2 separate regions of the Homo sapiens genome follow, and region 1 is linked to region 2. The links come from fine-mapping of genetic effects on gene expression. Tissue or cell type: breast. Region 2 holds a variant in brackets; the other region holds the start of a gene. All regions are shown on one strand. Distances are from middle to middle.

The links. PIP is the estimated chance that this variant, and not a neighbour inherited with it, causes the effect.
Region 1: CCDC81 starts here. The variant in region 2 is fine-mapped to the expression of CCDC81 in breast (GTEx, PIP above 0.99). The same link has a PIP of 0.9 or more in atrial appendage, cerebellum, gastroesophageal junction, sun-exposed skin and transverse colon.

Annotation. Positions count from the first base shown.
Region 1 is chr11:86,367,155-86,383,282 of GRCh38, forward strand. CCDC81 (coiled-coil domain containing 81) reads left to right here and starts at 7,733. Exons shown (of 15, transcript NM_001156474.2): 1 at 7,733-8,088. The coding sequence starts at 8,010. All of the region lies in intron 2 of LOC105369421 (a long non-coding RNA gene), which reads right to left. RefSeq lists a silencer at 7,473-7,767.
Region 2 is chr11:86,338,519-86,354,646 of GRCh38, forward strand. HIKESHI (heat shock protein nuclear import factor hikeshi) reads left to right here. Exons shown (of 5, transcript NM_016401.4): 4 at 6,085-6,203; 5 at 7,066-7,425. The coding sequence ends at 7,120. LOC105369421 (a long non-coding RNA gene) reads right to left here. Exons shown (of 5, transcript XR_007062826.1): 4 at 14,465-14,515. Among named protein-coding and RNA genes, the nearest start is that of CCDC81, 28 kb to the right of the region's middle. The variant T/C (reference allele first, on the strand shown) is at 6,341.

The DNA of each region.
Region 1 (16,128 bases), 29 kb after region 2:
ATATATTTCACATTTCTTACTGTGTGAGGTTCTTTTTACCTTCTTCCTTTTTGAGGTTCAATTTGGATAATTTCATTAAGTTCATTCTTCTTGACATATGTTGTTTTCTGTCTACTGTTAAAATCCTCAAGTAAGTTCTTTACTTTTTAGTCAACTTATGAATTAACTAAATTTTATTTAAGTTTGCATTTATTAAGCTTTTAAGTTTGCTTTCCTAGAATTCTGGGTTTCTTCTTAAAAAAAAAATCCTCATCAGGATACATACAATAAGCTGCACCCATTTAGAGTGCACACTTTGATGAATTTTGACAGCTGTAGACTCCTGTGAAATCACTACCACATTCAAGATACAGAATATATCCATTACACCCCAAAATATTTCCCATGCCCCCTTTGCAGTTCATTTCTCCTTCTGATCCTGGCCCCAGCCAATCACTGATTTGCTGGACTCACTATAAATTAGTTTGCATTTTCTACAATTTATATAAATGAAACCACACAGTATGTATTCTTTGTGTCTTGTTTTTATCAGCCAGCATGATGATTCTGAGGTTCATCCATGTTATTACCTATGTCAGTAGTTCACTCCTTTTTATTACTAAGTAGTGTTACTTTGTATAGATATACTACGACTTGTTTATCCATTTTCCATTTGATGGACACATGGGCTGTTTTACATTTTTGGCTACTGTGAATAAGGCTGCTATGAATATTTGCATTTAACACTTTGTGTGAACACATATTTTTTATTTCTATAGGTTGAATGCTTAGAACTAGGATGGCTGGTCATATGGTAGGTGTATGTTTAACTTTATAAGAAACTGCCAGTTTTTTGAACTACTTTACATTCACACCTTGAGAGTATAAGCTCCAATTGTTCCACATCTTCACTAACATTTGGTATTATCAGTCTTTTTAATTGTAGCCATCCTAATGTAGTGTTGTCTCATTGTAGTTTTAATATGTGTTTTCCTAATGACTAACCATGTTGCAAACCTTTCCATCTCCTTACTGACCATTTATACATCTGCTTTTGTAAAATGTATGTTCAAATATTTTGTCCATTAAAGAAATTGAATTATCTTCTTATTATTGAGCTTTGGGAGATTTTAAAAATACATTTTATATACCAGTTGTCAGGTATTGGTAGTGTGAATATTTTCTACTATTCTGTGACTTTTCATTTCTTAATGATGCCTTTAAAGAGCAAAAGTTTTGAATTTTGATAAAGTCCAACTTATCAAGTTTTTAACTTTTATGATTAATGCTTTTTATCTTAAATATTTGCTTAACCTCAAGATCACAAGATTTTTCTTTTATGTTTTATTCTAGAACTTTTATGTCTTTTACTTTTAGATTTAGGTCTATGAACTATTTTAAGTTAATTTTTGTATATTGTGTGAAGTGAATTGGCTGACCAACTTACCATACATTGCCTAAAGTCACTTATTTTACAATTTTTCAAAATTTATTTATCAGTAGTCTCCATTTTAAAAAATAGTCAAGGTATTCTTTTGTTTATAGAATATACATTTGGTTTTGCCTATGTAAAGTGGTATAATCTTATGGTAAAATGGGGCAAGAATCTGCAGGTTTAGAATTTTTGGAAGCCAAAGAGCTTTTTTTCCTATTTTTACTTTTATCATTATTTCTTTAAGTTTACTGGGATATACTCTGTTAACATTTACAGTCATTATTACTATTTTAACAACAAACAGGCTCAGAAATATTAAGATTTTATTCAGTTATAAACACAAGCCTATTTATGTTAATACTAGACTTGAGCTCAGATTTCCAAATGCCAAATTCCTCACTTTAGCTTAAGTGAAATAGAAAAAAGGTGCAAAATGCTTATAAGAGGTGTAGGTCAGATGAGTACAGCTTAAATATTAACTTTCTCTTCTAATCATAAATAGATAATGTTATATACACGGGTATTATTATCATATTTATTATTTATTGAGACAACATCTATTAAACATAAGAAAGCCCTATTGTATGACTTTTATTCTGCAAAGAGTCCAGGTAGAATAACAATAGTGTGTTAACTCCTACTTGAAATGGTCTATTTTCAAATAGTCTGAATTGATGAGTTTTCTATATTTTTTCTTTGGGAGATCATTCCACAGCTTAATGTCAAGGTAATCTCATTTATCACCTTAGCTAATTTACTTTTTTTCATTTGTATTGTAAGAAAATGAATGCATCTTTGCAGTTTCATCTGTCAAAAGCTTCTAAATGGCTGTCACTCAACCACATTAATCATTCTGTAGCCAGCCTTCCTGTGGTTATCCTTTTAGTTATTTGGTAGCTTTCCCCTATCTCTCTGAGAAATTTCTCTGATTAGTTGTTATCTGACATATGGATTACTTATAACATGTAATGAAATTCAAACTTCTTTTTAATGTAATACAGAAGAATATAGTGGTGATTAGGTCATTCTCTTATTCAAGGCCTTCAGGAACTATCCACACCTTCCAAATACAATTCAAGCTTCTTTGTTTAGCATTCAGGCCAATCATCCCAGTTAGAAGCAGACATAGTTTGAATATCTGTCCCTGCCAAATCTCACATTGAATTGTAATCCCCGTGTTGAAGGTGGGGCCTGGCAGAGAGCGTTTGGATCATGGGGGTGGATCCGTCATAGCTTGGTGCCATCCTCACGGTAGTGAATGAGTTCTTGCGAAATCTGGTTGTTTAAGTGTGTGGCACCTTCCCCCACCCACTCTCTCTCTTGCTCCTGCTTTCGCCATGTGATAAGCCTACTCTTGCTTTGCCTTCCACTATGAGTAAAAGCTCCCTGAGGCGTCCCCAGAAGCTGGGCAGATGCCAGCACCATGCTTGTACAGCCTGCAGAAACATGAGCCAATTAAACCTCTTTTTAAAATAAATTACCCAGTCTCAGGTATTTCTTTATAGCCATGCAAGAATGGCCTAACAGAGATATAATCTTCCTCCCCTTGAATTCCCATTACACTGTCTTCATGCCTCAAACATGACATTTAACATATGCTACGGTTTGATGTCCCCTCCAAACCTCATGCTGAAATTTGATCCTGGCCCAATATTGGAGATGAGGCTTAATGGGAGGTGTTTTGGTCATGGGGGCGAAACCCATGAATAGAGATATATGACCTCCCTCGGTAGGGAGTGAGTGCTCACTCTATTAATTCCTCAGAGCTGGCTGTTAAAAAGAGCCTGGCATCTCCCTTACCCGTCTTTTGTTTCCTCTGTCACCAAGTGATCTCTGCACAGCTGGCTCCCCTTTGCCTTGGCCTTTTGCCATGAATGGAAGCAGCCTGAGGCCTCCACCAGATGCAGATACCCAATCTTGAACCTTCCAGCCATTCTTAACTGTGAACCAAATAAATATGTTTTCTTTATAAATTACTCAGTCTCTCCGGTAGTCCTTTACAACAACACAAAACAGACTAAGATAAATCTTTACAATACAGTTGCAGTGCACAAATACATAATTTATGTGAATTCAAGTCTAAGTAAAACTTAAAGAGAATACTTTAAATTGAAATACTTTAGTTTTATCTACCAGTTCTGTATCATTCAGGTTCAATCAGAGAAGCAGAACCTGTAAGAGTGATAGAAAATATAAAATTTATTATGAGCACTAGCCCTTACATAGTTGTAAGAGCTGGTTAAGTCATCTCTGTCTGGTGTTGGCCTCTGTGTCTGGTGTAGGGCCTAAAGACAGCAAGGCTAATAGGAAGAAAAGATGGTCATGAAATGGGGAAGAATAAGGAAAGATTGGAACTGGTGAGAACAATCTGGAACCTACAAGTGAAACCGCCTTTGCAAAAATTATGACACTGAGAAAAATCTGACATAGGAAAATTATGGCAGTAAAAGAAATCTGTCCTAACCAACTCCATCTTGCTTCTAACCTCCAAGCTGCCCTTGTTCGTTCCCGGGCATAGGCTGAACTAACTTTGGGAGGAATTTATAGTTTAACTTTGAAACAAAGATGATAACAGCCCCTCCCTGAAACAAACTCCCTTCTTGCATGGGGACAAGATTGTTCTTTGTAAAACCAACAAATTAGCCACAAGCTCAGAAACCATGGCCTAGGAGTCATGCAGCCAGAGGCCACAAGATTGCTAACTTCCCCAATTGCCTCTATAGATAACATTACTATTGTAAAACCTAAGATTGGTGTTTGAGCCGATTTTTCTGACCCAGCATTCTGATGGGTTAGCTGGCACATTCCAGACAGAAAAACTGGCTCATCTGGTCTTGTGGCCTCCACCAGGAACTGACTCAGCACAAAACGACAGCTTCAACTTCCTATGATTTCATCACTTGACCCAACCAATCGGCATTCCCCATTCCCTAGCTCCTTTTCCACCAAACTAAAAAACCCTAGCCTCTGAATTTTCAAGGAGGCTGATCTGAGTAATAATAAGACTCCAGTCTTCCATTTAGCCAGCTCTGCCTGTATTAAACTCTTTCTCTATTGCAATTCCCCCATCTTGATAAATCAGCTTCATTTGGGCAGTAGGCAAGATGAACCCATTGGGCGGTTACACACAGGCAAACTAGATCCTGTGAGGACAAATTGCAACCTGCATCTGTATTTCCTTGCGTCCAACCTCAGTGATGTGAGGGACTTATAGGATTAGGTAGTACCTTTGGCAACACTGCTGCACATGTACCTGGTCTAAGATTGAGAGAAGCAGAATGAGGAGATCTGGCAGGAGCTGCAAAGCTGCAGGCCAGGCTGCTGGCCCATGCCTACACGGTGAGCCAGCAGGTCAGTGCCTGGCCCTACAATGACCTTTAGGGCTTCAGATCACATGGCTGCTGCTTTACTTCTGCCTTCCAAATCTCACACACATTCTCTTTTGACTAACCCTAACCTAGAATCATATAGGAAAGGGAATTCTGGAAAATGTAGTTCTATCTTGGCTAAGTTCACAGTCTATGAAGCTACCGCAAGTCTGTTTCTGCATAAATCCTTGAGTAAGCAAGGGACAGAAGATATACATCTGCTATATTTTCAATCTGTCTCAGTTCATGAGTGTGTATCATAGTGTAAGCATGGCACAGTGTTGAGTACATACAATTCTATTTGGTTGAATTTTTAGAATAAGACTGCTTTCCTAAACTCTAGCCAACTGTTTCATTACATCTCTCCTGAAGAAAGTGATCTGCTCCAGTGTGAGGAGAGAAAGACTGCATTGGGTCTATAAACTGAGAGATGGCATATGTGGGTCTCTGATATGGTCCCTTCCTAAGAAGGGATTCCTGGAGTAGTTTTCCCACATCCAATTTTCAATTTACACTTTAACTTTGAAACCCAATCCTGATTTTAGAACCTCCTGCAATAAATATTTGTTAAAATGGTGAAAAATGAATTGTGAACTTCTTATCTGTAGGGGTTTTCTGGTTAAGTGTCTGTATTCCTTTTAGCAACTAGCAAAGTGCTTGGCACAAATTAGGTACTCAATAGATGTGGTTAAATTATTTATTGCAAATTTCTATTCTGGTGTTGTATAATGAGTATTATGTTTTCTTTTTCAATAGTTTTTTTTTCCAAGTTGCCTTTAATATAAGCCACTTAATATTGTGTGTGCCTTGGGGCTTGGGTAAAAATGACTGCCCATTCAATGTGGGTTTTGCAAGGCAAGTTGGAGCTTGCAGAAAAGTAAATGTACATTGAAATACTTGGGAACATTTTGGCCCTGTTTGTTTCCTTCAGTGTTTGCATAAATCCCTACACTCTACCTGTACCTCTCTCTCTTCCTCTCTTTGGTAAATTATCTTAAATATTATAAAGTAATTCATGCCCTTGTTAAACAGTAAATAAAGGAGAAAAGTGAATATAAAAGTTCTTGGAATGCCTCCTCCACCATACAAAATTTTGCCTGATCCAAAATTCCACTGTTAATATTTTTGTGTATGTATCTTTCCTCAAATATCCCATATGTTTACAAAAATATATATGAATACGTATGCATACTTATATACTTATATTTGAAGGAAACAGGATTACATTATATAAAAATACTATGCTGCTACTGGTTTTCACTTACTATATTTTGAAACTTTTTCAACATCAGCACGTAAATGTGCAGTTTCCTTTTAAGTAAACTCTTGAAATGTATTCCAATGTATGTATTCACAATTTAACCAGTTCCCTATGATGGTCATCTTAGGCTAATTCTAAGAATTAACATTATAAACAATGTTGCATATACATATATCTTTGTATGTATCATGCTAATACATCCAATTTTATATCCAAATATATCCAAATTTGTAGCAGTGGAAGTACATAGTTTGCCTGAGTTTTAATAGCAACTGAAAAGTATGTATTTTCAGGATATATAATATTTATAGCTCATTAAAAGTTTCTAGTCAACACAGGGTTACATGTATCTACACAGCCTCTTTTGTCAAGAGACCTTTGACAAAAGGAAAGTAAAACCTTGGAAGAAAAGTCTTTGTCCTTATTCTTTTTACAGCTTCCTTTAGCCATCTACAATTCACTAATAATTAGCATCCACCACCATCTTCTGGAACTGAAGACAGCTTTTCTAGAGATTAAAAGTACCACTATATTTAATTCAAAATCTAATGTATTGTAAAACAATTATTTTTATAATTCCATTATCTTAATGTGGAACAATAATGCTGATATTGCCACTAAAAATTAGCTGGCATTATCTATTAAAATTGATCATATGCATTTCTCATGACCCATGAATCTACTCCTAGTTATATACACATCAGAAATGAGTACATCTATCTGTCAAAAGTGTTCTGTGAGACTGTTTGCAGCAGCCTTATTCCCAGTAGCCTCAAAGGGAAACAACGCAAATGCCCTTCAACAGTGGAATGCATAAATTGTGCCATACTCATAAAAAGGAATAATATGCAACAGTGTAAATGAAGAAATTATTACCATAGAAACTATGGATGAACCTCATAAACATAATGTGAATTTGAATAGAGCCAGACAGAAAAGGATACATACTATATGATTCCAAAGATTCAACAGGCAAAATGAATCTGCAGTATGTGTTGGCTAATGACTGGAGGGGTAATGAAGTGCTGATCTGTGCAATGTGCTAGCATTCTATTTTTTGACCTGGATGGGTTTTGCATAGGTATGTTCAGCTTGTGATAATTACCAGCAGAGGGGAGAGCATGCACGCAATTCTTCAGGATGAGATTGGTGACATGTAGAGAAAAGGGGGAAATGACTGTAGTTTAAAAAAAGTCAATTCCCTCCTCCCCACTTCTCCAGCTCTCCATTTCCTAGGAAGAGAGCCCAGGGAAAAGCAAACCAAGAAACAAATTCCAGCTCAAACTCAAACTCTCAAACAGATCTGGAGACTCAAATATCGATCTCTCTGGGCAAAAGGCATTCCTAGATTTGTCCAAGGTACAAAAACTACCACTCTAACCACGTTTCTTCGCTGCCCGGGGTCAGAGAAGTAAAAACCCATTATTTATTTATTTTTAAGTTACTTCCAACCTCGCTGCCTCGAGCTTCTGAATCGCCTGGGCAACCTGGAAGCCGCCCATCTAAGGGGGTGAGGTCGAATCCCAGCCTTGACGCCTTAGCAACCGAGCGAGCCTTTCTCGCGTCCCAGCAACGCGCCCTTCCCTCTGCCGGGCCTATTCTCCCTGGTGCCCCTCCCTTCCTCGAGGCTGCAGCTCACCCCTCATTGGGTCTCTCGTTGGTCAGGAGGGCGCGGGTCTGCACACTCTCACTCGGTGCCGGACATCAGTTCCTGCGGCTCTTGCTGTGGGAGCTGCCCGAGAGCCAGAGCAGTGGGGAGGGACGGCGAGAACCAATGTTTAAGTTTATTTAAGAAAGAAGAAAAAGAGTCAAGAAGTTCAAGATTTTCGTCACTCTTATTTTTAAGGCACATCCAAAGCTCCGTGGAGAAGGGGCTGGAGGGTGGGAAAATTATTTTTGTGCACATTCCATATAAGAAAGAAGAGACCCATCGAACATTCAGTACGGAGTCACCTGGAAATTGGAGATGTTGGATACGATCGCCCGTGCCCTGCAGGACCTGGGCAGGCAGGTGCTGCCCACTCTGCCCTCGCTGAGCCAGGAGGGTAAGCGTGTTGGGTAGCAGGGGGTGGCCCTGGGGATTGAATCTTCATCTGCTTGCAGGGGAGGCGGGGGGACCCACTTCCCAATTCCCTGGCTCAGGCCTGGCCTGCCGTGGCTAAGTTGCCTTGACAACCAGCTGGTAATCACATCCTGCCCACGTTGGACGCCCAGAGACCCTTTTCTGGTTTTGATTAAACCAGGGGATGCGTAGACAGCACAAAGTAAGTGCTCAATAAACGGACTAGCACAAAGTAAGTGCTCAATAAAGGTTAGGTAAAAACAGCCACTCCCACACCACTCGCTGGGATGGATCACAACCCTTTTGCCTACCTAGAGAAAAGAGATGCAGGGACCCTAAATGGCTCCTTTTGAGAGTTCATGCAAAGACGGTTGATTTTGTTGCCTTTGACATCATGCCGTTGTATTAAGAAAATGAGATGATCATAAAAAGCTACAGGGTAAGTACTTTGGAAGGGGACCTGGCACCTTCTCAGAGAAAACTCATTAGGCTTGGTTAGTAGCAAGACAAGATCTGTTTTTAGCATCGTTTGTAGAAGAGTCACCCCAAAGTGAGGCTGAGATCTGTCTGCAAACCACAGGAGAAGAGAGGTGCTGCAGGAATGCAAACTCATTATTATCAAACCATTGTAACTTAGAGATGTTGCTTAGGCTTTAACCAAATGACCGCAGAAAACAAATAGGAATGGCTGCTTCTTTCTCTTCCCCTGCATCACTCCTATCTTTTCCTCTCAAATCATCCTGAAAGATGCATTGAAGATAATGGCTTAATGAATTTAAAAACATTTGCTATATTTGTAAATTTATGTATAGTCATTCAAGGAATTCTGAAACCCTGCTATATGCTGAGCACTAGTTAACTTACGGTGAACAAACATCTTGGAATTTACTGTTTAGTGGGGAAGATGCACATTAATCAAATAATCACACAAATCAATGCAAATTTACAATTTAGGTAAATGATACCAGGGAGGAGGTAAATGGTACAGTAAGAACTTTTTTTAAAGATGATTTTTTAGGGTAGTTGTAGATTCACAGTAAATTAAGAAGGAGGGACAATATATTAGTTTATTTGTACACTGCTATGAAGATACTATCCCAGACTGGGTCATTATAAAGGAAAGAGGTTTAATTGACTCACAGTTCTTCATGGCTGGGGGAGCCCTCAGGAAACTTAAAATCATGGCAGAAGGGGAAGCAGGCATGTCTTACATGACGGCAGGAGAGAGAGAGAGAGAGAAGCCCGGGGGACCAGGGGAAACTGCCATTTATAAAACTCTCAGATCTTGTGAGAAATCCCTCACCATCATGAGAACAGCATGGGGGAAACTGCTCCCAGGATCCAATCCCCTCCCACCAGGCCTCTCCCTCAACACCTAGGGATTACAATTCAAGATGAGATTTGGGTGGGGAAACAAAGCCTAACCATATCAGACAGAGATGTCCCACATACTGTCTAATCCTACACTTGGATAGACTCTCCCATTGTCAACATCCCTCACCGGAGTGGTACATGTGTTACAATTGAACCTACATTGACACATCAAAATCACCCAAGTTTCATAGTTTACATTAGAGTTCTTTCTTGGTGTTGTACATTTTATGAGTTTGGACAAATGTAAAATGACATGTATCTATCATTATAGTCATATAGAGTATTTCACTCCCCTTTGTTCTGCCTATTCACCCCTACCCCTAATCCCAAAATCTGGAAACCACTGATCTTTCCACGGTCTTCATAGTTTTGCCAGTTCCAGAATGTAATATAGTTGGAATCATATAGTTTAAGCCTTTTCAGATTGGCTTCTTTCACTTAGCAATATGCATTTAATATTCCTCCATGTCTTTTTGTGGCTTGATAGCTCATTTCTTTTTAGTTCTGAATAATATTCCATTATCTAGATGTACCACAGGTTTTTTTTTTTTAATCTGTCCACCCACTGAAAAATGTCTTGGTTGCTTCCAAGTTTTGGCAATTATGAATAAAGCTGTTTTAAATATCTGTGTGCAGGTTTTAAAAAACTGGATATAAGTTTTCAATTCACTTGGGTAAATACCCAGGGACATAATCGCTAGATTGTATGGTAAGAGGATGTTTAGTTTTGTGAGAAACTGCCAGACTGTCTTCCAAAGGGGCTGTACTATGTTGCATTCCCAAGAGCGATGAATGAGAATTCTTGTCACTCCATGTTATTGTCAGCATTTGTTGTTGTCAGTATTTTAGATTTTGGTCATTCTAATAGATGGTGTATTGGTATCTCATTGTTTTATTTTGCATTTTCCTGATGATAAATAATGGGGAGCACCTTTTAATATGCTTGTCATTTTTTGATGAGATATATATAAAGGGCTTTGGCTCATTTTTAAATTGAGTTTTTCTTTTCTTTGTGTTTTTAAGAGTTATTTGTATATTTTGCATGACAGTGTCTTTTGCAAATATTTTTTCCCAGTCTGTGGCTTGTCTTCTCATTCTCTTGACATTGTTTTTCACAGAGCAGAAGTTTTAAATTTTAATGAAGTCCATCTTATTATTTCTTGCTTGGATTATGCCTTTGGTGTTTTATCTAAAAAGTCATTGCTATACCCAAGATCATCTAAGTTTTGTCCTATGTTATCTTCTAGGAGTTCTGTGGTTTTGCACTTCATATTTAGGTCTATGATCCATTTTAAGTTAATTTTTGTGAAAGGTGTAAGGTCTGTGCCTAGGTTCTTTTTTTTTTTTTTTTTTTTTTGCATGTGGATGTCCAGTTGTTCTAGCAATGTTTGTTTAAAAGACTATCTGCTCCATTGTATTGCCTTTGCCTCTTTGTCAAAGATAAGTTGACTGTATTTATATGGGTCTATTCCTGGGCTCTCTTTTGTGTCCTTTTAATCTATTTGTCTGTTCTTTTGTCAATACACACTGTCTTGATGACTCAGCTTTATTGTAAATCTTGAAGTTGGGTAGTGACAGTCCTCTGACTTGTCCCATGTGTTATCTAGATGCATATTATTTAGTCCCCATGTATTTTGGGATTTTCCACTTATCTTTCTCTTATTCATTTCTACTTTAATCCCATTGTAATCTGACAGCAGGCATTGTATGATTTCTATCCTTTTCTATTTGTTAAGGTGTGTTTTATGGCCCAGAACATGGTCTGTCTTGGTGAATGTTCCATGTGAGCTTGAGAAGAATGTGCATTCTACTGCTGTTGGATGAACTAGTCTGTAGATATCAACTATATCCATTTGATTGATGGTGCTGTTGAGTTCAACTATGCCTTTACTAATTTTCTGCCAGCTGGATCTGTTCATTTCTGATAGGTGAGTACTGAAGTCTTCAAGTATGATAATGGATTCATTTATCTCTTCTTGCAGTTCTACTAGTTTTTGCTTAATGTAATTTGACATACTATTTTTAGGTGCATACATATTAAAAATTCTTAGGTCTTCTTGAAAGATTGACCCCTCTATTATTATGTAATGCTCTTTATTTCTGACAACTCTCCTTGATTTGAAGTCTGTTCTAAAATTAATATAGCTACCCCTACTTTCTTTTGATAAGTATTATCATGCTGTATTTTCCTCCATCCATCTACTTTTAATCTATATGTTTTTAGATTTAGATTGGGTTTCTTTTAGACAAGATATAGTGGGGTTTTGTTTTTTGGTCCACTCCAGCAATCTTTGTCTTTTAATTGGTACACTTAGCCTATGTTCAAAGTGATTACTGATATAGCTAGATTAATACCTACCATATTTGTTATTGTTTTCTACTTTTTGCCCTTGTTTTTTGTACCCATCTTTATTTTCCACTGAGCATTTTACGATTCCATTTTCTCCTTTTTCAGCATATCAGTTATACTTTTTTTTTTTTGAGACATAGTCTTGCTGTGTCACCCAGGCTGGAGTGCAGTGGTGTGATCTTGGCTCACTGCAAGCTCCGCCTCCTGGGTTCATGCCATTCTCCTGCCTCAGCCTCCCCAGTAGCTAGGACCACAGGCACCCGCCACCATGCCTGGCTAATTTTTTGTATTTTTAGTAGAGGTGGGGTTTCACCATGTTAGCCAGGATGGTCTTGATCTCCTGACCTTGTGATCCGCCTACCCCAGCCTCCCAAAGTGCTGGGATTACAGGTGTGAGCCACCGTGCCAGGCCCAGTTATACTTTTAAAAAAAATTTTAGTAGTTGCCTTAGATTACAATATATATTTACAGTCAATTCAAGTCCACTTCCAAATAACACTGTACCACTTCACAGGTAGTGTGATTGTTTTATAATAACAAAATCTTAATTCCTTCCTCCCATCCCTTGTATCATTGCTGTCATTCATTTCATTTCACTTATATATAAATGTAAATATATATGATATATGCATAAGCATACATAATTGAATACATTATTGCTATTACTAGACAAACTGCTATCTGTTAGGTCAGCTAAGAATAATAAAAATAGGCCAGGTGCAGTGGCTCATGCTTGTAATCCCAGCACTTTAGGATGCCAAGGTGGGAGAATCGCTGGAGTCCAGGAGTCCAGGATCAGCATGGGCAATATAGTGAGACCTTGTCTGTACAAAAAATTAAAACCAAAAAAATTAGATGGACATGGTGGCACACGACTGTAGTCCCAGCTACTCAGGAGGCTGAAGTGGGAGGGCTGCTTGAGAGCCTAGCAGGTGGAGGTTGCAGTGAGCCAAGACTGCACCGTTGCACTCCAGGCTGGGCAACAAAATGAGACCCTGTCTCAAAGAAAAAAAAAGTTTTTATTTTACCTTCACTTATTCCTTCTTCGATGGTCTTCCCTTTTTTTTTTTTTTTAAATGCAGATCCAAGTTTCTGACCTACATCATTTTCCTTTTTTCTGAGGAACATCTTTTAACATTTCTTGAAAAGCAGGTTTACTGGCAATTAATTCCCTTAATTTTTGTTTGTCTGAAAAATAATTTCTCCTTTGCTTTTGAAAAATAATTTTACAGGATGCAGAATTTTAGGTTGGTGTTTTCTTTTTCTCAACACTTGAAATGTCTTATGGTACTCTCTTTTTGCTTGGTTTCTGAGAAGTAGTTCAATATAATTCTCATCTTTGTTTCTCTATAGATGAGGTGTTCCTTTCCCTCTCTCTGCCTGGCTTCTTTCAGGATTTGTTTTTAGCTCTGATTTTCTGTACTTTGAAAATGATATTCCTAGGTATCTTTTTTTGGGTATTTATCCAGCTTGGTGTTATTTGAGCTTCCTGGATCTGTGGTTTCATGTCTGACATTAGAGGGAAATTCTGAGTAATTGTTTCAAGCATTTCCTCTAATATTTCTCCCTCTTCTCCTGGTATTCCCATTATGGGTACACACCTTCTGTAGTTGCCTCACAATCCTTGGATATTCTGGGTTTTTTTTTTCCAGTCTTTGTTCGCTTTCCTTTTGAAGTTTCCTTGTCACATCTTCAAGCTCAGAGATTTTTTACTAAGTCATGTCCAGTCCACTAGTAAGCCTATCAAAGGCATTCTTCATTTCTGTTACAGTGTTTTTAGTTGCTAGCATTTATTTTTGGTTCTTTCTTAGGATTTCAATCTCTCTGCTTATGTAGCCCATCTGTTCTTGCATGCTGTCTACTATATCCGTTAGAGCCCTTAGCATATTAGCCATAGTTGTTTTAAATTGCCAGTGTGATAGTTCCAACATCCCTGCCATGTCTGGCTCTGATGGTTGCTCTGTCTCTTCATATTGTATGTTTTGCCTTTTAGTATGCCTTGTAATTTTTTCTTGATAGCTGGAAGTGATGTACTGGGTAAAAGTAACTGCTATAAATAGGCCTTTAGTAATGTAGGGGTAGAGTGTGGGGGGTGGGAAAGCATTCTATAGTCCTATGATCAGGTCTCAGTCTTTTAGTGAGCCTGTGCCTCTGGACTGTGAACTTTACAAATGTTTCTCAGATTTTTCCTTTCTCCTTAGGTGGGACAGAATGGCTAAAGTGGACTGGAGTTGGTCATTTTCCTTCTCTCAGGTCAGTTAGGCTCTGATAATATCCCAGCAGGTTAGGCTCTGGTGAACTAGTTTCTTCTGAGGGCAGGTCATTAAGGACAACAGAGTACTCTGGCATATTTAAAAATGGTATTTTTTTCTTCCTCCCACCTGAAGCACAAGGAGATTTTTCTCTTATATTTACCTGGATATTTGGCTGTGGGAATCTGGTTGAGCTCTGGGAAGTAAACCTTAAAATATGTGGGGACCCTCCCTCCATGACTGGGTTCCCCTGGAGGTTTTAACTCTTGGTGTTGTCCACACTGAGCCTCCAGAAATTTGTCAATTACACTTTGAGTTTTCTTACCCAGCATTGGTTCTTGATGCTGTTTCTGCATGTGAGTCCGTTTCAGGAAGCCATTCCTCCTGGTATTTGCCTTTCTGTCTCTCCAATTTTAGGGGCAGCAGTTTGTCCTGTGTCCTCCCTCATCTTATGGACCCAAGAAGAGTTGTTGATTTTTCTGTCTGGTCAACTTTTTAGTTGTTAGGATGGAGTGGTGACTTCCTTACATACAGCACCAAGAAATGGAAGTCAAATGAGAACATTTAATAGAGAGTAAGGATGGGGGTGTGTGCCAAGAATGGCTAAAGAAGGGATAATTTGAGCTGAGTTGTGAAGAATGAGTTGGAATTAAGTAGATGAAATGGATCAGAGAGGTAGAGAGTGGAAGTGAGTTGAAAATGATTTTGGCAAAGGGAATGACAGGGGCAAAAACTTATGGTGAGAGTATGATGTGATGGAGCAACTGAAAGACAGTTGACTGGCTGCTCTGTAGATGTGGGGAGGCAGTGTATTCTAAAGTAGGCTAGAGAGAAAGGAAGGGGTCAAGTAATACAGGGCCTTGTAAGTCATATTAAGGATGTTGACCTTTATGTTAAGCCTGATGGGAAGCCATTAAGTGTTTTGAGCTGGAGGTCAAGGAGAAGTTGAATTATATGATCAGTTTATATTTGGAAAAGATTACTCTGGTTGCCATGTGGGGAATGAATAGGAGGGTCAAGAATACCTATAGCAATAGTCTTGGTGAGAACAAATGGTAGCTTGGTCTAAAACTGGTAATAGTAGAAATGCAGAGGAATGCAATGAATGAGGGGCAACTTGGAGGTAAAATCTACAGATTATGGTGATGGACTGGATGTTAGGGGTGAGGGATAAGAGAAGTCTCAAGGATGACTTCTGAGTTCCTGGCTCATATAACTGAATAGATAGTGGTGCCATTCACTGAGACCGAAATCCTGGATAAAAGACAAGATTTAAGAGAAGAAAGATTGCGGTTTTGGGCAAGTTGAAGGGCCTTTTTGTGATATATAAGCAGGCAGTTGGATAAACGGGTCCAGAATCTCAAAGAGGGGGTGGCAAGGAGTCTGGGTCTGTAAATAAACATTTGGGAATCATCCTGAGTGTGGGTGTGACTGCTGAAGTGGAGAGTATAGAGTGAAAAGAGAAGCAACCTAGGACTGTACCTTGAAAAACCCTACCATTTAATGGTTGGGTGGAGGAGGATAAGCCTGCAAGGGAGACTGAAGAAATGGCCAGACAGTTAGGAGAAAACCCAAATGAGAGTAGTAGTATAAAAGCCAAAAGGAGAGGTGCTTAAACGGGGAGGGAGTGATCAATAGTGTCAGACATGGCTGAGGGCTCAGAATTAAATACGTTTATTGAATGTATTGACAAAGAGACCATTGGTGACTTCAGCAAGAGCTGAAGTGAAAGTCAAACTACTATTTATTACCTTTCACAAATTATCTATTGCAACAAGGATGAAGATAAACTTCAAACTGAGCAAAACACATAAATTAACTTTCATCAGTGTATATATTCATCATTGTATATTCCTGCTGCTTCTGTATGTTTTAGCAAAGTTTAATATTATGTAATTATAGTTCTTAGAAGGCCCTGTCATCATTTTACAGATGTGAACTGGGTAAAAGTTGAGTCCATGGAAGCAGGAAGGCTGTGGGTCTTCCACGTAGCACACTGCTCTTTCCATTGCATTATGCTCTGGGAATATGTTTCTTTGTTCAAATC
Region 2 (16,128 bases):
GATCATCAGCTAAGATCGAGGTAGTAGAAATTGAAATAAAAAAAGACTACTAAATAAGTCTTCTAGCAGAGGAGGAGTGAATGGATTAGGGAAACCATATGTGTTTGCCTGGCAGTACCAGAGGCGCACTTTTGAAGGTTGTGGTCATGAATGTAAAGGTAGATTTGTCACATCTTTGAAAATGGACTGAATTGAGAATGACAGACTCTGGGTCTCAAAAATGTTTTTTTTCCCATAATTTTACAAATAAGCTGCTGTGCTGAAAACAAACTATAAAATAATCGTAGTATCCTGTGTAGACAATATTTTAAAAGTGTCTGGAAAATACACATTAAAATGTTATCCCTGGAGAAGGGTAAGAAGACTTTTTTACTGTACATGTTTATAAATTATTTGAGTTTTTAAAATAAAACTATAGTTTTAATTAAATGTATTACGAAATATTTTAAATACAGAGAAAATAGAGTAACTTATATTTTCCACAAATAGTTATTATGTAACTACTCTGTACCAGGCATGTCTTTTTTTCTTTTTCTTTTCTCTTTGAGACGGAGTCTCACTCTGTCGCCCAGGCTGGAGTGCAGTGGCGCGATCTCGGCTCACTGCAAGCTCCGCCTCCTGGGTTCACGCCATTCTCCTGCCTCAGCCTCCCAAGTAGCTGGGACTACACGTGCCCGCCACCAGGCCCAGCTAATTTTTTTTGTATTTTTTCGTAGAGATGGGGTTTCGCCGTGTTAGCCACGATGGTCTCGATCTCCTGACCTCGTTATCCGCCTGCCTTGGCCTCCCAAAGTGCTGGGATTTCAGGCGTGAGCCACCGCGCCCAGCCTGTACCAGGCATTTCTAAGCACTCATAGATACAAATAGGTCCACAAAATAGAATAACACCTGTCTTTACAGAGCTCTCTTTATGGTGGGGTATACATTAAGACTTCCATTGTCTTCCCCCTGGATTTAACTGTTATATTTTGTCTTATTTGCCACTAATTTTTAAAAAAGAAATTAAGGCATTATAGATATAGCCCACTGCTGCCTGCTTCTCTTCCTGCCTTTTACCTTCTAACTTTTTATATCTTTCCTATTCATATTTTAGTACTTAAAAAAATTCCTGTGTATCCACAAAATATGTATAGTACTATCTGTATCTGTTTAAACATGTTTCTAATTTAATTACTTAGTTACTCCAAATTTTTATGAGTATTACATGTATTTGGTTTAAATAGTCAAATAGTTTTTTTTTATTATACTTTAAGTTCTAGGGTACATGTGCAAAACGTGCAGGTTTGTTACATATGTATATATGTGCCATGTTGGTGTGCTGCACCTATTAACTCGTCATTTACATTAGGTATTTCTCCTAATGCTATCCTTCCCCCTGCCCCCCACCCCAAGACAGACCCGCCCGCCGTGTGTGATGTTCCCTGCCCTGTATCCAGGTGTTCTCATTGTTCAATTCCCACCTATGAGTGAGGACATGCGGTGTTTGGTTTTCTGTCCTTGTGATAGTTTGCTCAGAATGATGGTTTCCAGCTTCATCCATGTCCCTGCAAAGGACTTGAACTCACCCTTTTTTATAGCTGCATAGTATTCCATGGTGTATATGTGCCACATTTTCTTAATCCAGTCTATCATTGGTGGACATTTGGGTTGGTTCCAAGTTTTTGCTATTGTGAATAGTGCCGCAGTAAACATATGTGTGCATGTGTCTTTATAGCAGCATGATTTGTAATCCTTTGGGTATATACCCAGTAATGGGATCACTGGGTCAAATGGTATTTCTTAGTTCTAGATCCTTGAGGAATTGCCACACTGTCTTCCACAATGGTTGAACTAGTTTATACGCCAACCAACAGTGTAAAAGCGTTCCTATTTCTCCACATCCTCTCCAGCATCTGTTGTTTCCTGACTTTTTAATGATCGCCATTCTAACTGTTGTGAAATGGTATCTCACTGTGGTTTTGATTTGCATTTCTCTGATGACCAGTGATGATGAGCATTTTTTCATGTATCTGTTGGCTGCATAAATGTCTTCTTTTGAGAAGTGTCTGTTCATATCCTTTGCCCTCTTTTTGATGGGGTTGTTTTTTTCTTGCAAATTTGTTTAAGTTCTTTGTAGATTCTGGATATTAGTCAAATAGTTTTTTTGAGATGGAGTCTCACTCTGTTGCCCAGGCTGGAGTGCAATGGCGTGATCTCGGCTCCTGCAACCTCTGCCTCTCAGGTTCAAGCAATTCTCCTGTCTCAGCCTCCCAAGTAGCTGGGATTACAGGCGCGTGCCACCAGGCCTGGCTAATTTTTGTATTTTTAGTAAAGATGGGGTTTCACCATGTTGGTCAGGCTGGTCTTGAACTCCTGACCTCGTGATCCACCCACTTTGGCCTCCCAAAGTGTTGGGATTACAGGCGTGAGCCATCACGCCCAGCCTCAAATAGTGTAATATGTGAAACAGCTGTCCTCTGTTATGACTCTTACATTCTACTTCTATTCTGCTCCTTAGAAGCTATGATTTTCAACTTCCCTCCCCTTTTTAATCTATTTTTCCTAGTGTCTGTTATTTCCATATATCAGAAAAAACCTTGCTTAAAATCTGTTAGTTTTTCTGTTATAGATGTTTTCTATTTATTTGCTAATATAAGACATGATGAAACTCTCTCACTTCCCTGCTTCCCAACATGTACATACTTCTTTTCTCCCCACCTTATCAGTATACATTTTTGTTAAATCAGTATTAAAAGTTTACAGTATTATGAGAAGGTAAATATTTTTCAGAATTGAGCTATGTGTGGTACAACGATTACATTTCTTTTCTTGTATAATTTTTCATTTTTCCTCATTTTTTTCCTTTGCATAGATTTCTATGTTTCTACTTCTAATTTATGCTCAAACTCTACTAAGTGTAAATTCTCATTCAGTTTATTTAAACATATCAGTTTCAAATTGGTCTCGGAAACATTCCACTTGGAATTCTCCTTTTTTTTTTTTTTCTTTTTTTTTGAGACAAGGTCTTGCTCTGTCGCCTAGGCTGGAACGCAGTGGTGCAATCACAGCTCACTGCAGCCTCAAACTCCTGGGCTCCCACTAGTAGCTGGTAGCTGGGACTACAGGCAAGCATCACCAAACCCACCTAACTTTTTAATTTTTTGTAGAGATGGGGCCTCATTATGTTGCCCAGACTGTCCTTTCTTTTTTGTTCTACTGTTGACTGACTATTCTCTGGACCTATTGTATAGCCATAGACAAGGTATTATTTCACCATTACTACAGAAATTCTTTTTGTTTCTCTTCTGTGTTGAATCCTTTGTTTTTCCTTCTTGTTGATTTGTTCTTTTGTGTGTTTTAAAAATGAATATAAATAGTATTATTCTGTATAACTTGCTGTTGTTCACTCAACATTATTTTAAAGATTTATCGATGTTGATACATGGAATATACTTTGTTTTGATTGCTTCATAGTGTGCCATTGTATAAATGAGCCAGTTTTTTTCATTTCCTTTTTCATATGTTCTCACTAACATTTATCAGACCTTTAAAATTTTGCCAAACTGATGAGTGAAATTAGAATATCATACTTAGTTTGTGTTTCTTGATTACTGGTGATATTGAGCATCTTTGCACACTTTTGGCTGTGTTTGTATTTCCTTTTATAGGAATTGACTTTATATATTTTGTCCAATTTTCTGTTGTATTGCTTTTGGCACTTTTTAAATTTAGTCTTTTGGGAAAAAAACCTAAGATGCCTTTATGTGTTCTGGATAATAATCCTTTGTAAATACATTGCATTTTTCTCCTTCTAGCATGGTGCTTGTCTTTTAACATTGCTTATAGTGACTTTTACATACAGATATACTATATTTGTATATAGATAAATGTATTGTTTCTTTTATGATTTGTGGATTTGTGGGTTTTTTAATGTTTGAGAAATCCTTCTCTGTCCTGATATGTAAAGATATAAAGATGTTCGTGTGTGTGTGTGTGTGTGTGTGTGTGTGTGTGTGTGTGTGTGTAGACTGGGGGTCTCGCTATGTTGCCCAGGCTGGTCTCAAACTCCTGGCCTCAAGCAGAGCCTAAGATGTTGTCTTTCAGTTCTTAAAGCCTTAAGGTTTACTTTTTGAATATGTTTGTGTGCAGTATGGTAAGGGAATTAAATTCATTTTTCCCCTTATGGAAAACTAGTCCTAGCCCCATGAATTGAGTAATTTGTCCCATTTTTTTTTTTTTACCATGAGTAATAGCATCTTTGTCATATATGCTTAGGTTTATTTCTGGGCTGTCTCTTTTATTCCAATTAGTTTATTTGCCTGTCTCTTTGCCAGTGGGGCAAGTTCCTCCTCACAGTCATCAAAATATGTATAGGTATTCTTCATAATAATTGTGTAGGTATTCTTCATAATAATTATATCAGCTTGTTGAGTTTCATTAAATAGTATTAGCTTGTCAAGTTTCATGAAGAACCTTGTTGGAATTTTGTTGGTAATAACATTGGATATATGGGTTTAATTTGGGGAGAATTGGCCACCTTTACCACATTGTCTTTCCATATGTGACATGTTATGTCTTTCCATTGAACATGGTATATCTTTCCATTGAAAATGGTATATATAGGTCCTTTTGTTTTCTTTTCTGTCTCTTAGTAGTCTTTATAATATTTTCCACAAAAATCTTACTAGTTTGTCTTAGCATTTTTTCTAGGTATTGGAGAAAATGCTTTGTTTATATTCTGAATGGAATCCTTTTAAAGATTTCAGTTACACTTAAAAATTATTGTCACTGGTGTGGAGGACTGCTGTTGATTTTTTTTTTTTTTCCTAATATTGATCTTTTAGTTGTGACTTTAGTCTGGGTACAGTGGCACATGCCTGTAACTCTAGCACTTTGGGAGGCTGAGGTGAGAGGATTGCTTGAGCCTAGAATTTTGAGACCAGCCTGGGTAACATAGTGAGACCCTGTCTTTATAAAAAGATAAAAAATTACCCAGGCATGGTGGTGCATGCTTATAATCTCAGCTACTTGGGAGGCTGAGGCAGGAGGATCACTTGAGCCTGGGAGATCAAGGCTACAGTGAGCCATGATTGTGCCACTGCATTCCAGCCTGGGTGAAAGAGTGGGACCCTGTCTCAAAAACAAACGAAGAAACTGTTAGTGACTTTACTGAACTTTTGATATTAATCAGGTGCCTTCGCAGCAGAGTCTCTTGGATTATACTGCCTTCATATTATTCAACAACTGAATAAAAAAACCTAATAAGACCAATTCTCTTGTGTAGAGAAGAGAAGGCATGGCTGATTTTGTATATTTGAGAAAGTGATGCTGGAAAGGTTATTTTTGAGTGAGTAGAAGGTAGTATTATCTTCAGAAGTTCAGTTACTTTTAGGGTTAGTACTTAAGCCCATTTGATTCTCAGGAAATGTGAGTCCATTTACTTCTAGCTTCTACCAAGGAGACTTGGAGTATGTTAGTGAATTTGATCATTTTAGAGTCAAGGAAGGGAAACAGATTAGGAAACAGAGGAAATGGAATAGTGCTGCCTTTATCTTCTTTCCAGCAATGGAAATAACCAGTTGCTCCTTTATAATATGTAAACTCTTATCTTTCTGGCAGGTAAAAGACTTCTTAGAGATGGTTACTATTTTATATGAGAAAATAGGTTGATTTGAGGAGAGTGATAATTGAGGAGGGACATAGTGGATGCAGACATGGAGATGAAAGAAAATATTTTGAAGAAAAATTTTTTTCTTTTTTTTTCCCCAAAGTGAGTAGCATATTTCACAGTGTCATTGTATGTATGATTACTCTTAACATTCTTTTTTATTCATTTATTTAATTTTATTTTTTTGACACAGGGCCTCACTATGTTGCACAGGCTGGTCTTGAATGCCTGGCCTCAAGTGATTCTCCTGCCTCAGCCTCCCAAAGTTTTGGGATTACAGGCATGAGCCACCGCACCCAGCCAGCTTTCAGCATTAGACTCTCTTAGAACTGACACTCCCTATAAACAAGTTAATGTGAGAACACTTTTAATTTAAAAATATTGAGTTCTAAATGAAGTATTCAGTATAATCCATTAATCTATTATTAACTTTTCAGTTCACACAAAAGATGTTGGACAATTTCTACAATTTTGCTTCATCATTTGCTGTCTCTCAGGCCCAGATGACACCAAGCCCATCTGAAATGTTCATTCCGGCAAATGTGGTTCTGAAATGGTATGAGGCATTTTCTGTCTCCAATATTAAGGCTTTTTATAACTGAATATCTATTTTGTCTATGAATATATTCCTTTTTTGACATTTAAACATATTCTTTTATTGTGAACATCAGCACTGCATGCCATTAAAGTATG[T/C]ACTATAGAGATCTGATGAGAAACAGTTCTTACCCTAAATATTTTGTTATATTGTCGCCATTATGAATTTATAAAGACAGGAAAATATAGTTGCCTATGTTTTAGGGACCACTATTAAAGCTTATAAATATTTGTGTATTTTCATTTAGAAGTACCATCTATGAGAGTAGTTTATACTGCACTGTGTACATGAATGGCTAATGAATCTATTTTCCAACTTTCCCGTGTTTTATAGATATTTCTTTTCACTTTGAGTATCCTAGAGATGGGAGGATGCCTAGGAAGAGTTTGTTGAGAAGTGGTACCATGGTGTAGCATGGAGAGCATTGGAATGCACTAGGTTTGAATTTTGGCATAATGTAGCTATGTGACCCTGAGCAAATTTCTCTCATCTGCTCATCTGTGGAATGAGGAAATAGGAGTTGAATTTGATTTTTTTCCTTAGGTCCCTTCTAGGTCTTAAATTTGCAGAAGATAAACAATTACTAAAATTTCTTATGATTTGTGCTCTCTGATAAAAGCTAATCAAAACTGCCCCGATATTTAAATTCCTATGCTTGCTGTCTTTTTATAAGAATAATTACATTTCCAGATTATCTTTTTAGATTTTTTATAGCTTTTTAGAAATGACATGTAAAATTGTTTTGGATAAGTCATTTGGCAGTTAATGAAAGATCCTATTTTAATTTTCTTGTGAATGTAAATATATGTGTTTTCTTTTCTAGGTATGAAAACTTTCAAAGACGACTAGCACAGAACCCTCTCTTTTGGAAAACATAATTTGAATAAAATAATTTTTAATGGATTCTGAAATTTGTCATGTTTTGAAGATAACTGACTCCATCTAAAAGTATGAGGTCAAAGGATCACGAAACCTAAGTTTAAAAACTGCTTAGAGACTGAAGCTTAATTAAAAATCTTTATTAAAAATTAAAAACATTGAAAAATGAAAATATGTTCATCATTAAAGACTTTTTTCCCCTTAAGCTTAAAATACCATTCAAAGGCAAGACATTTTGTTTTGGCTATGATTCATTTTTTTTACTTAAAAATAAAACCTATACCAAACAGTAGTGTGCCAAGTACCATTGCATGTGTAATCATTCATTTATTGAAATGAAACAATGGTTTGCTGGAGTAGTTAACTTTTCAATTACCTATTTCAAAATTTGGGAGACTTGAAAAACATATGAAGTATACATTTTTAAATATGGAGAAATTATTTTCAGAGATTATTTCTTAAGATTGTCAGTTTTTCCAATTAATACAGGTTGGCTGTCACTTTTTATATCTGCAGATTCATATAAGTTTAATAAAATTGCCATATTGGTGAGCTTTTATTTAATACTGGTAGGCATTTATGTGTAGAATATAGGATTCTTCTTGTTAATGGATGGTTAGTAGTTCATTTTTTGTTGATTATAACAATACCCAAAACTGGGTAATTTATTGACTTAAATGTTTTTTTTTTTTTTAAGACGAAGTTTTGCTTTGTTGTCCCGGCTTTAGTGCAGTGGCGTGATCACAGCTTATTCCAGCCATGACCTCTTGGGCTCAAGTGCTCATCCTGCCCCAAGCTTTCCATGTAGCTGGGACTGCAGACGTGCACCCCCATACCCAGCTAATTTTTTTGATGTTTTTGCAGAGACACAGTCTTACTGTGTTGCCCAGACTAGGCTTGAACTCCTGGGCTCAAGCAATCCTACTTCAGCCTCCCAAAGTGCTGGGTTGGTAATTGATAAAGAAAAGGATTTTTTTTTTTTTCCTACAATGATGGAGACTGAGAATTCCAAGGCCAAGGGGCTGCAGCTGGTGAGAGGCTTCTTGCTGGTGGGGAGACTCTGAAGAGTCCTTAGGCAGTGCAGCGTATCACACAGTGAGGGGGCTGAGCATGCTTTTGTGCCAGCTGAGGTCACTCTTCCTCTTCTTATAAAGCCACCAGTTCCCCTCCTGTGATAACTTAACCTATGGGCAGAGCCCTCATGATCCAATCACCTCTTAAAGGCCGCACCTCTCAGTACTGCCACATTGGGATTAAAATTTCAACGTAATTTTGGAAGGGACAAATATTCAAACCATAGCAATTGTTGAATCATGAGACTTGGCAATGGCTACACAACAGTCTTTAATACTCTGCACAGAAAACATCAGCTAATTGCAATACAATTTCCAGAAGCAAAATGATTATTCATGTACTACAACTTGTATCTAGGACCTAGATTGCCAAACCCAAGCTGAAAAAACATCCTGAAGTTCAGTTGTGCCTCTTCTACAGTCAGGTAGCCTCTTCCCAGTGATTTTTGTAGTGATACAACAGGAAATACTAAGTAAACACAAACTATTCCTTGGTCTGCTAAGAAATCAAAAGAATATATGATTATTCATGATAATCTTGGGTTGTAGTGAATTTAAACTAGTTTCTTGGGCTTCCAGAGCAGATGATGGGAGTGAAATTTTGGGCCACATTTTCTAGTATTATTCTTACTTCTAGAATAGTATCTTGCACAGTATGCATAAGGAGTCATCACTTCTGGGAGCTTTCCTGAGTAGCCTATACCTGCCTTATTTTGGAAGTTTCTGGTTATTCTCGGAGACACGTGATATGCTGGAAAGAAAAGGGCTTTAAATATCTGAACATCTAACAATTATTCTATATATGCAAGGTAGGTTTGTGTACAGGAGGCAGGTAAAAACCTGGTGTTGACATAAATAATGCCGGCTGGGTTACAGAAGATAGTAGAAATATAAATATTTATCACAACAGGAGTGAGCCAAGAATTGTTTCCTTGAGGTGGGCATATTCTTAGAGGAGTTAAATAGTTCCTACAGAGAAGTCTGAAAAATCTGGAGAAAACTGACTAGTGCAGTGAGGATAGCTCCAACATTTGTCCCCTGCCTTGGTGAGCTTGATTCTGTCTGCTGACAGTGCTGTAATGATTGTAGCAGAAGTATATTTGTTTAATTAAGGTAGAGATCCAGTTTTTACAAGAATGAAGAGTGAGGTTAATGATATGAAGAAAATTCAAATACCAAAAGGGACCTGTGGGAATTAACTGGCCTCCTCAAGAATTTAAAGGAAATATATATATATATATATTTTATGGTGGAATTTGAAAGATTCAGGGAGTAGCTATAGTTTGAGAAAACTGCTCAAAATTCTTAAGGTGGCCAAAAAACACCATAAAGAATTAAGTATAAAATGATAAATGTGAGAGAATACTGAGAAACCTTTAGGCAATCTCTAGGGAGTACCAAACTGTAATAAGCAGAAGAGGGAAAGTAGCAAAGGTATCAGAAAATTAATCTTCCTTGTTGCCTTGTAGCCTTCCTTGTTGCCATGCTGTCTACTTTGTATTGTCATTTGTTTGATTTGAAGGTCTTGATTAGTAGTCTTCCACCAAAGATGTTGGCTTCTGGAGGATTCCTAAGAATCATTGGTTTAAGGTCTCCTGATGGAGTGGTTGTTTAGCTGTCTGGAGAAGGTACTTGTCATTTAGTTGGGAAACATAAACCCAGTGATCATCATCTTGGAGTTTACTGCCATGCTAGTTGTTACAGTATCTGCTGAGCTAATTTTTCACTGAGGCCAGTTTTTCCCTGATGTCTCTTCCAGAAGACTAAGTTTGCTGATAGTTGAGGATGTTGCAGACAATGATGTTTTTCTAGATTAGAGAAGAGTGGAATCCACTATTGAGGAACAATACAATTTATAAAATGATTATGAGAGTACAACATATTATGGACAATATTCAGTGATAATTCTCTTGGTCTGTAATCTCGTAAAGTATATCTTTTTGCAGACAGTTATTGTGTTAGTCTTTACATGAACATGAGCATGTTTCTTTTTACCTGAAATGAAACACTGAAACATTTTTATTCACAAATTTTACCTGGCATAATTAACAGGAGAAGGCTAATCTCTTGATTTGTTAAGTTTTCTTTTTTTCTTTTAAGTTTGATTTTTTTTAAAAAAAAAGTCTTAAAATGATTGGGGATTAATTAAAATTTGTAGAGTGCCAAACAAACCTAATTTTTCCTATTGTCTTTTCTTCCATAATGTGAAGGAAACCTGAAGAGTTCAGGCATAAAAGACATCTTCATAGTCTTACTGTGCCTGAATTTGGGAAAGGCCAAAATTATAAAGAGTTGTCAGAGGAGAGAAGATATGAATATTAGTCAAAAATATATAAAGGTGGCTGGGCATGGTGGCTCACGCCTGTAATCCCAGGACGTTGGGAGGCCGAGGTGGGTGGATCACTTGAGGCTAGGAGTTCAAGACCAGCCTGGCCAATATGGTGAAAGCCCATCTTTACTAAAAACACAAACATTAGCCGGGCATGGTTGTGCATGCTTGTAATCCCAGCTACTCCAGAAGCTGAGGCAGGAGAATCACTTGAACCCAGGAGGTGGAGGCTGCAGTGAGCCGAGATGGTGCTACTGCACTCCAGTCTGGGTAACAGAATGAGACTCAGTCTCAAAAAAAAAAATTTTTTTTAAATTAAAGAATTTAATTTTTAAAAGATTTATTGAGATATAATTCATATTCCACACAGTTAACCCATTTACAGTTAACCCATTTAAAGAGCCAGGTGCAGTGGTGCACAGCTGTAATCTCAGCTACTCTGGAGCCTGAAGTGAGAGAATTGTTTGAGCCCAGGAATTCAAGACCAGCCTGGGCAACAGCAGAGACCTTGTCTCAATTGAATGAATGAATGCTTTTTAGTTTAGTCTCAGATTTGTGCAAATGTCATCACAATCTAATTTTTATTCCTCCAAAAGGAGCCTCATATCCATTAGTAGTTAATCCCCATCTCCCAGCTTCTAGTATCCCTAAGCCACCACTAATCTTTTTGTGTCTGGATTTGCCTTTTCTGGATATTTTATATAAATGGAATCAGAGAGAGTGGTCTTTTGTGACTAGCTTCCTTCACTTAGCATAATGTTTTCAAGATTATTCCATGTTGTAGCATGTATCTGTACTTCATTTCTTTTTATCTTTTTTCTTTTCAATTTTTTGAGACAGGATCTCCCTCTGTTGCCTAGACTGGAGTGCAGTGGTGCGATCACGGTTCACTACAGCCTCGACCTCCCAGCCTCAAGTGATACTCTCACTTCAGCTTCCCGAGTAGCTGGGACTAGAAGTGCGCACCACCATGCCCAGCTAATTTTTTTTTTTTTGGTATTTTTTGTAGAGATCTAGTCTCACTCTGTTGTCCAGGCTGGTCTTGAACTCCTGTGCTCAAGGGATCCACACACCTCAGCCCCCTGAAGTGCTGGGATTATAGGCATGAGCCACTGTGCCTGGCTAGGAGTTTATTATAGATACAAGTCTCTTAAAAATAGGATTTGCAAATATTTTCTTCTGTGAGTTATCTTTTCACTTTCTTGTTGATATCATTTGCAGTACAAAAGTTTTTAATTTTGATGTAATTCAGTTTATCTTTGTTTTTCTTTTCTTGTTTCTGTTCTTGGTGTTATATCTAAGAAACGATTGCCTAATTCAAGGTTGTGAAGACTGACTCCTGTGTTTTCTTCTAAGAGTTTTATAGTTTTATCTCTTTCATTTAGGTCTTTGATTCATCTTGAGTTAATTTTTGTGAATGGTAAATGAATATGCACATTCTTTTGCGTGTGAATATCCAGTTTTCCCAACATCATTTGTTGAACCGTTAGTCTACATTTGAACCATATCAAGTTAATTTTGGTGCACAAACATAAAAGATAAAAGAATATGTGACTAGGATTATTAGGTATTTTAGTTTTTCCAAATTAGTATTTTAGCTTTTTTAAAAAATGACTTAATATGTCAAAATGCTTAGTGATAGAATGTTACAGTGATAGAAGAAATCTTTGTTATCTCACCAGAGATAGCTTTGCTGTTTTATCAGAAAGAAAATCCAGATTATAGTTTTACTCTTGTTACTTGTCTTCTATTTAACAATATGTAGTAATGGCTTCATAAGCCTTTCTTCCTGTGAATACATCCATCACATTTAACCAGCTTCGTCAAAAATTTTGACACATTTATTGATCCTTTCCAACCCCTAACTTGTCAAATACAGTTTACTCCTCAGAACTTCTACACTCTCTGAATACTTTTTTTCTGAGATGAAATCTCACTCTGTCTCCCAGGCTGGAGTGCAGTGGTGTGATCTCAGCCCTCCTGAGTTCAAGTGATTCTCCGGCCTCAGCCTCCTGAGTAGCTAGGATTACAGGTGTCTGCCACCATGCCTGGCTAATTTTTGTATTTTTGGTAGAGATGGGGTTTCACCATGTTGGCCAGGCTGGTCTCGAACTCCTGACCTCAAGCGATCCACCCACCTCGGCCTCCCAAAGTGCTAGGGTTACAGATGTGAGCCACCGCGCCCGGCCTGAATACTCTTAAGTTTAAAAAATACTCTTCAAATGGTATTTCTAGTTCTAGATCCCTGAGGAATCGCCACACTGACTTCCACAATGGTTGAACTAGTTTACAGTCCCACCAACAGTGTAAAAGTGTTCCTATTTCTCCACATCCTCTCCAGCACCTGTTGTTTCCTGACTTTTAAATGATCTCCATTCTAACTGGTGTGAGATGGTATCTCATTGTGGTTTTGATTTGCATTTCTCTGATGGCCAGTGATGATGAGCATTTTTTCATGTGTTTTTTGGCTGCGTAAATGTCTTCTTTTGAGAAGTGTCTGTTCATATCCTTCACCCACTTTTTGATGGGGTTGTTTGTTTTTTTCTTGTAAATTTGTTTGAGTTCATTGTAAGGATTATAAATCATGCTGCTATAAAGACACATGCACACGTATGTTTATTGCAGCACTATTCACAATAGCAAAGACTTGGAACCAACCCATATGTCCAACAATGATAGACTGGATTAAGAAAATGTGGCACATATACACCATGGAATACTATGCAGCCATAAAAAATGATGAGTTCATGTCCTTTGTAGGGACGTGGATGAAGCTGGAAACCAGCATTCTCAGCAAACTATCACAAGGACAAAAAACCAAACACCGCATATTCTCACTCATAGGTGGGAATTGAAAAATGAGAACACATGGACACAGGAAGGGGAACATCACACACTGGGGCCTGTTGTGGGGTTGGGGGAGTGGGGAGGGATAGCATTAGGATATATACCTAATGCTAAATGATGAGTTACTAGGTGCAGCACACCAACATGGCACAGGTATACATATGTAACAAACCTGCACGTTGTGCACATGTACCCTAAAACTTAAAGTATAATAATAAAAAAATACTCTTCTAGGCTAGCATAACCAGACTCTCCTTAAGGTAAAATAATTCTTTTTTACTTAGATAAATAAAATTCATTACCTTGCATACACATCCCATTACCTATCCACATTTAAAAAATATCTTCAAAACAAGTATTCACATCAACATAAAGCCATCTATACATCCTTTTTAACCTGGTAGCTAACAGCTACACCAGTTATTAAAGCACATATGTCATAAAATTGTCCAGTTTTCCAAGGTTACTTACAAAAGAATATTCATATCCTTAAAGTTAACTAAGGATCTGGAAATCACAAATGAAGCTGACACAGGAAGTCCTTATGGTTGTAGCTTAAGAATTAACAAATTTAGAATCTTTTAAAAGACATTTGTTATAAGTCCATTTTGTTAAACACAACTTGAGCTTTTTGTAATAAATAATTTGTGGAAAAGAGATAACACTTAAAACCTATATAAAAATTTAAGTTTAAATATGGAATAAAAGTCATTTATATACATTTTCTGACTTAAACATTCATTAAAACAGTTTCATGACCTGCTATTTCTCCTTTTCCATTTAGAGCCTGTGGTGGACAGATATGTATGAGATAATATGAGACATCACTAAATTCAGCTTTTTTTGTGTGTGTTTAATGGATAAAAGAACTAACATTTCTAAGCAAGAACAGAAGTTTTCTTAGATCTCAATAGCATTAGCCAATTGGCTTTATTTTTCCAAAGAAACAAAATAAGAAAAAATTATGTGAGCATCTGTTTTTTCTTCAGTGATGCACAGAGAACCACAAAATTGCATTATAGTGTAGTGGATAAGGTTATGGCCTCTAGAGTCAGGTAGCTTGTGTTCAAAATTTGGCTATACCATTTACTTACTGTTTTGATCTTATCAAGTTACTTCGCCTCTCTGTGTCATAGTTTCTTCATCTGTAAAATGAATTGACCACAGTATATATCTTTGAAGTTTGTTATAAGGAATAAACTTACCTAAAACTTTTAGAATAATGCCTGATACATTCTTAGTGCTCAATAAGTATTGGAAATCAAATTGTTGAAGTATATCATATTTGATATCAGCCAGGGTCACTCACTGGCCAAGTAACCCACCACATACCAGCATCAAAGATCAATTAAAATTGTCATATTCCTTTGGGGCTGCTTTTGAATGATAAAATGTCTGATAACTATTTGTACACTAGGTATGTATTATATTTCTAAAAGCCTAAAGAGAACTGCATAAACAATAGGGTTGCATAGTATAACAAAGCATTTGTTTCTTGTTTGGAATTTTATTTTATTTTTTGAGATGGAGTCTCACTCTGTTGCCCAGGCTGGAGTGCAGTGGCGCGATCTTGGCTCACTGCGACCTCCACCTCCTGGGTTCAAGCAATTCTCATGCCTCAGCCTCCTGAGTAGCTGAGATTATAGGCATGAGTCACCACGCCCAGCTAATTTTTGTATTTTTAGTAGAAACGGGGTTTCACCATGTTGGCCAGGCTGGTCTCGAACTCCTGATCCCCCTGCCTCGGCCTCATCTTCTTTGGAATTTTATTTTCTTGTGGCTTGGGTACTTGGAGTTTGGGAAAAAATGAAAAAGACAGTGGAGACGAAAATCCTTCAAAAGCTGAGGGTCACTAGGGAGAAATTGAAAAGGAAGAATAGACAATCTGAATAGGACTATATCTACTAAAGAAATGGCATCAATAGCTAATCTTCCCAAACAGAAAGCATTAGGCCAAGATAGGTTTGCTGCTGAATTCCACCAAACATTTAAGGAAGAAATTTTTCCAATTCTCTACAATATCTTTCAGAAGTTAGGAGAGGGAGTCCTTCCTTCCTAACTCATTCTATGAAAAACTAGGACCTAAAAGTAGTCAAATTATGAGTAGATAAATTTTACTTTAAAAGTGAAAAATTACTATTTATTTATTTAGAGACAGAGTCTCGCTCTGTCGCCCAGGCTGGAGTGCAGTGGCATGATCTCGGCTCACTGCAAGCTCCACCTCCCGGGTTCACGCCATTCTCCTGCCTCAGCTTCCCCAGTAGCTGGGACTACAGGCGCCCGCCACCACGCCCGGCTAATTTTTTTGTATTTTTAGTAGAGACGGGGTTTCACCGCATTAGCCAGGATAGTCTCGATCTCCTGACCTCATGATCCGCCCGCCTTGGCCTCCCAAAGTGCTGGGATTACAAGCATGAGCCACTGCGCCCAGCCTGAAAAATTATTTTTAAATGAAAGAATATTTATGGTCAAAAATAAAAATGCAAGCCTGGCTGGTCACAGTGGCTCATACCTATAATCCCAACACTTCGGGAGGCAGAGGCAAGAGGATCATTTGAGCCCAGGAGTTCGAGACCAACGTGGTGAGACCCTGTCTCTACAAAAAATAAAATAATTAGCCAGGCATGATGGCATGTGCCTCTGGTCCTAGCTACCTGGGAGGCTGAGATAGGAGGATTGCCTGAGCCCAGGAGGTTGAGGCTGCAGTGAGCCATATTCGCAACACTGTGCTCCAGCCTGAGTGCCAGAGCAAAAACCT